Linked DNA regions of Homo sapiens. The protein of the gene in region 1 interacts with the protein of each later gene in a pairwise test. Each region holds a gene or a part of one and is shown in the gene's direction. Other genes may lie near its edges.

The links.
Region 2: the proteins of PLEKHG5 (region 1) and RND3 interact in binary tests that used the Homo sapiens proteins (3 or more experiments, as listed by UniProt).

Annotation. Positions count from the first base shown.
Region 1 is NC_000001.11:6,488,624-6,496,201, reverse strand, and holds the start of PLEKHG5 (pleckstrin homology domain-containing family G member 5), read left to right. Parts: upstream 1-4,534; 5' UTR 4,535-4,565; intron 4,566-5,621; exon of another isoform or gene 5,622-5,757; intron 5,758-7,578. UniProt on the Homo sapiens protein: Functions as a guanine exchange factor (GEF) for RAB26 and thus regulates autophagy of synaptic vesicles in axon terminal of motoneurons. Involved in the control of neuronal cell differentiation.
Region 2 is NC_000002.12:150,467,673-150,470,692, reverse strand, and holds the end of RND3 (rho-related GTP-binding protein RhoE precursor), read left to right. Parts: intron 1-454; coding exon 455-706; 3' UTR 707-2,498; downstream 2,499-3,020. UniProt on the Homo sapiens protein: Binds GTP but lacks intrinsic GTPase activity and is resistant to Rho-specific GTPase-activating proteins.

The DNA of each region.
Region 1 (7,578 bases):
AGCCTTATGTCACGGATGAGGAAACTGAGGCTTAGCCAGGGGAAGTGGTCTCCCACGGTGCTGGTCCAGTGCCCAGATGGCACCCTTCCTGTTGAACTCAGCCACTCTTCAGGCCTGGGCATGGGTCTGAGATGCTTTGGGACTTGGCGAGTGTGACCATGGCCCTGGGGATGACAAAAGGAGGAAGGGGCCAGTTGATCCTGGAGTGCCAGGGCTTGGGAGCTGGGAGTGGGGCGAAGTATAAATCAGGGATAAAGGGGGCAGGAAGGAGGATAATAGTACTGGCTGGGCGCTTCTGCCTGTGATGTGCTGGGCTTAGTGCCACCCGCTTTCTGTGCCATATGCACTGATTGCGGCAGCTCTGCAGGGAAGGCATCGTCACCCCGTTTTCCAGATGAAGACACCAAGGTTCAGAGAGGTCCAGTGACTTGGCCAAGGCCCACAGCTCATGAGAGATGGAGCCGGGGTTTGGAGCCAGGTTTTGCCCCTCCCAGCATGCATTTACATGACAATAGTGACAACTGCGCAACTTAGCATCTGGCGCAGGCACCAGGACTCACTGACTCCTCCTCCGGCCTTCTGAGATGGTCCTGTCCTTATTCTCATTTACAGATGGGGAAACTGAGGCTCACTCAGGGACAGACTGCTAGGAAGTGGGAGAGCTGGGATTTGAACCCAGTACCCAGGTCTGTGTCATACCAGGGCCCGTGTTGTCTTCCATCATGTGTCTCAGCACTGCCAGCTGCAGGAAATGTAAAATGCCACCCCCCACCCCCCGCTCCCCTCCCGCACCTCCACCCAGACACACACACACTCGTTCTGCACAGGAGGGCCGTGGTGAGGGAACAGGGAGAACTGCTATGGGGCGGGGCGGGGAGGGGGCGGCCTCCAGTTGCCGTGGTCACCAGGCAGGGGGGCGGTGTGATGTCAGATACAATCTGCTGGCACGGATGGTGCCTGGCATTGGGCTCTGGTGTTGGCTGGTTGCCTCTTTCCCAGATGGGGGCTCCTGGCAACAAATTGGCCTCAGCTCCCCCCAATATACATCCTGCCAGAGGCCTGCGGAGCCCCGAGGCTTTTGCCTGACCTGAAGGGGCGGCTGGGGCAATAAGGCACACTGTCCCAGCCCCTCCTCTGGGCAGCTGCTCTCAGGGGGGGTCCTCAAGCTGCTCAGGCAGGGGCAGGGGTGGGATGGCCCAGCCTTCATAGAGGTGAGGCCTGGGAGAAGAGAGCTGGTCTCAGAGTGGGTATGGTCCCTCTGCAGCCTCCAGACCTCACCTCCAGCCCTGGCCTGCCTGGAACTTGGCACAGCTGACATTGGCATCAGCTGATGAGGGTCACCCAGCGTGCACGGGGAGAGTCTGGGCCCTGTCACTACTGGGACGCCCTTTGGGACAAATGGCACAGACTCACTGTAGGGGCAGAAATGCCTGAATTATCAGAGGCATAGAGAGCCAGTCAGGGAGGGCATCCTGGAGGAGGGGGCCTTTAATGGATGTGAAAACATGGATAGACAGAACAGAGGCAAGGGCAGTCCAGGAAGGGAGAGGCAGTGGTGGAGAGGAGGTGCGGGGCACTCAGATTTGGTAAGAGAAACAAAGAATAACATTGTCGATGATGATAATAATAACCACTACTGGCTGGGTGTGGTTGCTCATACCTGCGATCCCAGCACTGTGAGAGGCTGAGGCAGGAGGACTGCTTTAGCCCAGGAGTTTGAGGCCAACCTGGGCAATATAGGGAGACCTCTCTCTACTAAAATTAAAAAAAAGGCCTGGCGTGGTGGCTCACACCTGTAACCCCAGCACTTTGGGAGGCCAAGGCGGGCAGATTGCCTGAGCTCAGGAGTTCGAGACCAGCCTGGCCAACATGGCGAAACCCCATCTCTACTATAAATATAAAAATTAGCTGGGCATGGTGGTGGGTGCCTGTAATTCCAGCTACTCGGGAGGCTGAGGCAGGAGAATTGCCTGAACCTGGGAGGCAGAGGTTGCAGTGAACTGAGATCATGCCATTGCACTCCAGCCTGGGCAACAAGAGCAAGACTCCGTCTAAAAAAAAAAAAAAAAAAAAAAAAAAAAAATTAGCCAGGTGTGGTGGTGGGTACCTGTAATTCCAGCTACTGGGGAGGGTGAGGTGGGAGGATCATTTGAGCCTGGGACATTGAGGCTGCAGTGAGCCGTGATTGTGCCACTGCACTGCAGCCTGGGCAACAGAGCAAGACCCTGTCTCAAAAATAACAGGCCAGGCGCAGGGGCTCATGCCTGTAATCCCAGCACTTTGGGAGGCCAAGGTGGGCAGATCACTTGAGGTCAGGAGTTCGAGACTAGTCTGGGCAACATGGTGAAACCCCATCTCTACCAAAAATATAAAAAATAATTAGCCGGACATGGTGGCACACACCTGTAATCCCAGCTACTTAGGAGGCTGAGGCAGAAGAATCGCTTGGACCCTGGAGAAGGAGGTTGCAGTGAGCTGAGATCACGCAATTGCACTCCAGCCTGGGCAACAGAGCGAGACTCTGTCTCAAAAAACACCCAATAATAATAATAATAACAATTATTGCTGACCGAACATGTTTACATGCCAGGCGGGGCGTTAGGCCCTCCTGCTTGTCTCAGTGAAGCTTCTTGAGACCCTCAGGAGAACAGCGTTATTCTTATGACCACATGACTTGTAAGGAAACGGAGGCCCAGAGAGGTAGAGGAACTTGCCCACATCACACAGCATGATCGTCAGAGCCTGGCCTGCGTGAGGCTTGTCTGATCAAGAGCCCTATTCTTACTCTCCAGGATGTGACTAGCGTTTTGAAGGAGATGACTTCATTTATTCATTTACCAGACCAGCTCTGAGCATCTGTCGGTGCCAGGCCCAGTTCTAGGCCCAGGAGATCTCCAGAGAACAAAGGGGATGCCCTCCTGGAGGTGACATTCTAGCTGTGCTGGGAGGAAGGAAGGGAAGTGACCCTGGCTGGCCAAACTTCCCCCCAGGCTGCCCTGGCAAAGGACCAATTTCAGGCAGGGCTGGACCCTTCGGCTTCTGGGCCCACCCTTGATGTTTTATTTGAGGCTCTCCTGGGTGCTGGAGCTTCTGAGATGAATTTGCCATCTGTCCCCTACCTCCTGCCCCTGGAGTTCCCACTGGGAGGAGGGCTAACCAGGATGGGCTTCCTGGAGGCAACTGGAGTCCTGAGGATTAAAGAGGTACTGAGATGGAGGACAGCTGAGTGAGCAGGGGGGGACATTGGGGGCTATAAGGGGCAAGCGAGGCCAGGGGGCACAGGGAGAAGGGGACGGGAGGAGGGGGAGGCAGGCTGCACTAGGAGCACCTGCATGTCCAGATGAGGGGTCTGGACTGTGTGTCATGGAGACCCCAGGAGAGAAATGGCCCCTCCCCAGGATGAAGATATGTAGAGCAGTCCACACCTCTGAGCTCCAGGATCAAACCTACTTTTTTCCAGCTGTGCGACCCTGGGGAAGTCACTACACTTCTCTGAACCCCAGGTTCCTCATCTGGAAAATAACCCGGCAGCGAGGATTAAAAGAGGCCCATATATAACATGCTTAGCATAGAGCCTAGCACAGCGTAGGTGTGCAAGGTGTCCTGGGAGTGGGGGTAACAAAGTCACCTCTAGACTTTGGGTGTGCCCTCCGTACCTGCCCTGGGATCTGAGACCTCCCCAGGCTCCATCCCAGCTTCTTGCACACAGGTGGAGCTGTGAGTTTGGGGAGATGGAGAAAGGCCGGGAGATCAAGGCAGACTAATGATATTGTGGGTTCCCCCTGCCCTCCTGTGAGGTGGCCACGGGACAGTGTGTGGACTCCCCAGCTCCTTGCTGGGCTCCACTGGGCACTGTTCGAGGTCTAGTCAGGGCGTCCCAGGTCACAAGGGGGCATGGAGGAGGACACTTGTGGCCCTGGGCCACAGGGGACATTGGGCACCACATGTGAGGGTGTTTATCATGGAGGAGGTAGTGATTCCAGCAGCCGCCATTGATCCAGCACGTACTGTATGCCAGGCCCTGCCTTAGCGCCTGGCACAGAAACCTCATCTGGCCGCCTCCCCCGCTGCGGTGGGGCCTACCCCATCTCCGTTTCCTAGAGAGGGCCCTGCAGAGTGGCGAGGTAAAATGACTTGCCAAGCAAGGCAAGATCAGGACTCAAACCAGGCCTCTCTGTCAGAGCCTCCCATTTCCTCAGAACTCTCAGGAGGAAAGGGAGGTGAATTTTTCTGCACAGCTCCCAAAGGCCTTGACAGGGAGGTGGGGTTCAGCACACTACAGGAAAGAGTTTCCAGCAGCTGGAGCTATCCCCGAAGTGGAGGTAGTGAGCACCCCATCACTAGACATATGCAAGAAGAGACAGAAAGGGAAGCGTAGAGGGGATTGCAGTGTGGAGTGGAGGTTGGATGGGAGGACTTCAGAGTTCCCTTGCAGCTTAACAATGGCCTGTGAGGTGGCAGGGATGAGTCAGGGTATGCGTGTGTGGAGGGAGGGGTGGTGAGATGAAGACCAGGGAGAGGAAAGGGTGGACCTGAGGCCCCCATGGAGAAGGGACGGGCAGGATGTGAGTAATGGGAGAGGCAATCACCTATTCTCCTGGGCAATGCTTTGGGGGTGAGCAGCGGCAGACCAGGATGCCCCAGGGAATGGCCAGGTTTGGGCCATCTCTGGAAGTGACTGGTCCCCGGAGAGAGGTGGTGGGGCTATCTGCAGCTGAAGAAACGGGCAGGGCCAGAGAAACAATGCAAGGGGACTCCTGGGTTTTGGCTAAGTAGTTTTGGGGGAGCAGGTGAAGACGTGGGGATCCCTGGCCCAGCCAGGAGCTGCCCTAGTATAGGCCCAGCCCCAAGGGTTGTGTGGGGCAGTCTGGAGGTTTTGGCCTGGGAAGGGGTCGGGGGAAGGCTGTATAAAAAGCTTGAAAGTGCGGAACAGGTTGGTGGACCTGAACTCCACCTCCTCGAGTGGGCCCCCTGTATCCACACCCTTCCCAGTCCTGAGCCCAGAGTTATTCTAAACTCCCGCTGCTGGGAGAGGGGAACTGGGAACCACTAAATGGCAGAACAGCACCCTTTTCCGGCCATATCACCTGGGCCAGAAAAAAAAAAAAGAGGGGGCCCAGAGAAAAGCGGGCTGTTTCTGGGGCACCGCGGAGGCCGCAGATCAGAATCCAGCTTTTTACAATAGAGCGGAAGCGAACCTGGCTCAGGGCGATTCCGGGGCGGGCTAGGCCTGCGGGTCTCTCTGCCTGGTCCCCCGGGGCTTTTCTGTCGCGCGGAGGCTTCCTGTCGCGGGCCCTGGTCCCCCCTAGCCCCCTTCCGGGATGGGCGAGCTCCCGTCTTCAAGCCCAAGTTAATGACCAGGGACTTTGAACTTTTTGGAGATCTGCAAAGGGCTGGCCCCTCGGGGACAGTGACGCCCCCCACCCCCTCCCCTGAGCCCGGATCCTGGATTACCCCAAGCCACCGCCCGGCCTCCAGCCACCTCCCTGGCTCCGGCGCGGGGCCCTTCCTGGGACCCCTCCTCTCCCCGGTCCCAGCCGGGCGGCGCCGTTGGTACATCCCGGCCGGTCCAGGTGGTAGCGCCCGCGCGGCTACCGTAATTCCCCTACGTCCCGCGCCCCAGTTTGCGCTGAGTCGACTGAGCCCGTCCCGCGGCTCCCGTCCCCCTCTCCCCGCGCGCCCCATGAGGCTTTGGCAGTCTCGGCCCGAGCCTTAGAGCCTTAGACACCGGGGAGGAGACCCTGGTCCTGTTCCTAGGTGAGTCGCGGGGAAGTGGGAGCTGCGCTCCGGACGGGGGGTGGGACTAGGCGCCAGGACCCCCCTAAACCGATGGACAGAACCCGGATTCGAGATTCCCACGTAGTGCCAGGCCTGTGGGTGGGTACAGGGTCCTCACCAGCTGTATCTCCATTTACGTGAGGGTGGAATGGGTTCAAGCTCCCGCCCCCATCACAGTGTCTCTAGGGTGGGTCGGCTCGGAGATAGGGCCGTGAGGAGTCTATGGGACCCTGGCCCCGGTATGGGGGGTATTGGCGGGGCAGGGGGATCCTGGAGGGGCCCGGGCGCGCGGCGTGGCTGGGAGGCTCAGCCGATCCTCCCCATCTGGCCAGTCCCGGAGTCGGTCCCAGGCGGAAAAGCCCTCTCGAGGCCGGCAGGGGGCGCCAGAGGCTGCGCCTCGGGCAGTCTGAGCAGACCCAGGCACCCACTTAGGGGTGGGGGATGCGGGAGACCCGTGAATCCGGGGAGGCCCTGGCCTGCCTTGGTGGAAGTCTGGGAAATGGAGGCCAAGAGGTCCCCTGCAGATTCCTTAGTAACTCCTCAAGTTGAGGGAGCTCGGGGGTATTTTACCATTCTCCTGCCCTTTAGCCGGGGTCCGGGCACACACTAGGACCTGGCAGCCATCCCCAGATACTGAATTCTATGCCCTCTTGGCACAGGTGGGCAAATTGAGGCCCAGTAGGGGAAGGGTGGGGGAACGTAGGCTCCAGACCAGGTCTTCTGAAGCCCAGGCAGGTGCCCTCTTTCCCCCGCTCCCTACCAAGGAGGCTTCTAAGTTGCACCGGGGAAGGGCTTGCTAGTCCAGGTGCTCCGAAGACACACGCTGGGGTCTGGGGCTGGGAACTGCAGAGGCTGGGCAGGAGGGGATGTTCACAGACTGCAGCCCCTCCCTCTTTCTCTAGCACTGGGTCCCAGCCTTGGGCATACTAGCCAGGACCGCTCCCTGGGGAGGAAGGGGCCTTCCTGGCTTCCAGGGCCCGTGCGGTGGGCTTAGCCTGGGGAGAGGTTTTCTGTGTCCCTGCCATCTGCCCGGCACAGGGCAGGGCCTTAGGTCAGGCTCTGACTCCAGGTGAGCCTCAGAACCCAAGGGGTGATGGGTGAGGCCTGGGCCTAGGGGAAAGGAGGGTGGGTAGGCCGGGTGGAGCGTAGAGAGCCGCCTGGCAAAGCCACCCCGCCCTGGCTGGCCTGCCCATGCATGCAGTCTCCACCCCTGGATTTCTAAGGTGTTGGGTGGGGCCTTGGGACTAGCAGGCTCCCAGGGGAGCTTAGCCTTGGTGGGAATTCCTGGCAAGGACATCCCTCCAGCCAGAGAGCTCGGACTCCTGGTTCCAGGCCCGTCTGCTGTCGGCAGAGCCTGGAGCTGGCCCCAGACCTGCGTCCTTTCCTGGACAGGGAAGTCCCTCTCCCACCCAGACCAGGCTGGGGCCCCAGCTCGTTGTGGGGCAGGGATGCCTGGGGGATCCCTGGTTTCCCATCTGCTTTTCTGGGGCTGGGGGAGGTGATACTGAGGGAGAACAGCCGGGTGCGGGGGTCCTGCCTTGGAGACTCCATTATTCATCAGCCTCCGCATCTGGTTTCTGGGTATCAGTTTCAACAAGCCGGCCCTGACTCACAAGCCTGGAGCTGGGGCTGGGCTGGGGAGGGGCTCCCTCCCCAGGGAGTTGGGGGCCAGGACTTCTTGGGCCTGCCCCTGAGCTGTTTCAGCTCCCTGCTGTGGAGAGGAGGTGGGAATGCAGGAGCCTGCCCAGGCCCACCCCACTGCCCTGGTACAGGGGCTGGGGGCTCCTTTCTGCTCTGCAC
Region 2 (3,020 bases), on another chromosome or scaffold:
ACTAGTAAGCTTCTCTGCGCCATTCCATGCTTGCTGTGACCCTGGAAAACCTGAATAACCAGTTAACTCTTGCTTGCAGTTGATAGTGAAGATGAATCACTTCGTTAGCTCCACTCTACACTTCTTTGAATCACCTCATGTTAAGTGTTTGATAACCAGGGTCTTCCTTTGTTAAGATCAGCCTTTAGCATTTATTCAGAGCTCTAACACCTCTAATGAGCCATGAGAGTTGGGCATCTTAGGGATGGGCTCTGGACTGCAAATAGTTATGAAGTAATAAATAAGGCAGTTTACATTTTAACAACTTTTTTTTTTTGCAATGACACTTGGAAAATTCAGTTAACATATCAGCAAACGTTTTGCAATGTGTTATTATTTTGTGGTATTAGAAGATGCTAGCTAACTTTCCCCCAAAGTCTTATTGCTGGTTAAAATCCCTTCTTTTGCTTCTCAGGGGGCAAATATGGCCAAACAGATTGGAGCAGCTACTTATATCGAATGCTCAGCTTTACAGTCGGAAAATAGCGTCAGAGACATTTTTCACGTTGCCACCTTGGCATGTGTAAATAAGACAAATAAAAACGTTAAGCGGAACAAATCACAGAGAGCCACAAAGCGGATTTCACACATGCCTAGCAGACCAGAACTCTCGGCAGTTGCTACGGACTTACGAAAGGACAAAGCGAAGAGCTGCACTGTGATGTGAATCTTTCATTATCTTTAATGAAGACAAAGGAATCTAGTGTAAAAAACAACAGCAAACAAAAAGGTGAAGTCTAAATGAAGTGCACAGCCAAAGTCATGTATACCAGAGGCTTAGGAGGCGTTTGAGAGGATACTCATCTTTTTGGAATCCTGACCTTAGGTTCGGCATGTAGACCAAGTGATGAGAAGTGAATACATGGAAGAGTTTTTAAGTGTGACTTGAAAAATATGCCAAAAAATGAGAGATACAAATGAGCTAGAGGAAGATGAGGGGGGATGCGAGTACCTCCAAGAAGAAAAATCACACTCTGAATGGTGCTTGCATTTTTGGGTTTTTTTTTTTTGTTATAATCTATTCATGGATCTCCACTTTGATTTAATTTTTAAATGTTTTAATCTCCTTTACAAAAAGTATACGTTAATATACCGTCCTCAAGGGGGAACTGGCACTGTGACCTTAGCATTTAGTTTTCTAGAGGATGTGATCTAATTTCTTTCTAGCTCATCATTAAAAAGGAAATTGTATCAGGACCCATGGGATATATCCAGAGGCAAACTTTATGAGGCTTTGAAATCTTGCCTTCCTGAAGATAGCTGAGTAGGATGGTTCTAAGGAAAGCCTTTGCAATCTTGCAAGATTTGTAGACCAGCACTACAAAGATCGCATAGATCAAATAGGAAAAAAAATGTCGATTTTTATTCAGTCTGATGGTTCTGTTCTTCATTGTGATTGTCATTAAAAAGTGGTAAATTGCTCAATGTAATATTTTTGTGCGCTGTTTAGAAGTTGTGTGATTTTTTGCCATCGTTGATAAAAATGCAAAGTCAAATAAAAGGTGTCTTGGTTTGATGTCATAGAATGATCCAAGGAGAGAAAAAAGGTAGTTACTGTTTTCACCAGAAAAGGTAATGAGTGAAGGAAAGAATAGTAGCAGAAAGCACAGTTTGTGAGTAAAGCTGTCTGGAATTAAGTTACCAAAAATACAAAGCAAAAGGACTATTATTTTGGGTTGAAGCTCCAAAACTGACAGCATCTGATAATCTGTTGGTTTATTTCACTTTTCATTAAATGAACATTGATGAGAGAAGATGCCACTTACCCAAGCTTTAGAGAATCCCTAGTGGAAGATTATATGATAAACTTTCAGTCCTGACATAACACTAGGGCATTTCTAGAGTGTCATTGCTAAAACCTCACTGAACAGATGCAGCCAAGGTCTGTGTTCAGCACTTGGTCTCTGTTGTTACGTAAAATAATAAGCATTTAAAATAGTTTACAGATATTTTTGACCAGTTCCTTTTAGAGATTCTTTCAGAGAAGAAACCAGATCTGACCTGTTTATTGTTGGCGCTTGTTGAAAACGAGCTTTCTTTCCCATGATAGTGCTTCGTTTTTGAAGTGTTGAAGCTGTGCTCCCCTTAAATCGTGGCAGGAGAGATTAAGGTAATTACAACACTCAGTTCTATGTCTTACAAGCACTTTGTCTTGTCTCTGCAAGAAAATTCGATTCCAGTCATTTCCCATAAAATACAGACATTTTACCAACATAATATGCTTTGATTGATGCAGCATTATGCTTTGGGCAGTATTACAAAATAGCTGGCGAGTGCTTTCTGTATTTAAATATTGTAAAAAGAAAATAAGTTATAACTGTTATAAAGCAGAACTTTTGTTGCATTTTTTAAACTGTTGAAGTCACTGTGTATGTTTGTTTGGTCAATGTTTCCGCAGTATTTATTAAAACATACTTTTTTTTTCTTCAAATAAAAAAGTAACCATGTCTTTGTCTAAATGTGATCTGTCTTTTATTATCTACTTCCTGATTTAGCTGTTTAGCTTTGTTCTTTAACATAGGTGATTACAGAATCTGGCCTAACGTTTTCTGAACTAGAAGGCTTTGGAATTTTTTGATTCTTCATAGTAGTAACAGATAAACCTGCATATATAAAAGTTTTCATGATGCTTTCAAATCACAAGAAAAAAATGGGGCATAATTAGATTAAGTGATTTGATCATATACAAAAAAGAGCTATGATACTGCCTAAGATTAACTTGTAGAAAAGATGGAAATCCTTCAAGTCTTTAAGAATGAAGCAATATGATGCAGTCTCAAGTCACAGGTTTAATACTAATATAAGCCTAGTTTGCCTCTCTGCCCTGTGGGGTCCTAAGCCTTGGTCCTTAACCCATGCCACCTCGCAAGGCATGCCCTTGTTCACAGCAGTTGTGGGGATGACCCAGAACACAGCTTTTGCAGCAATTCGTGGAAGGATAAATAACACAGCACAACATAATACAAGTTACCCCACTGATC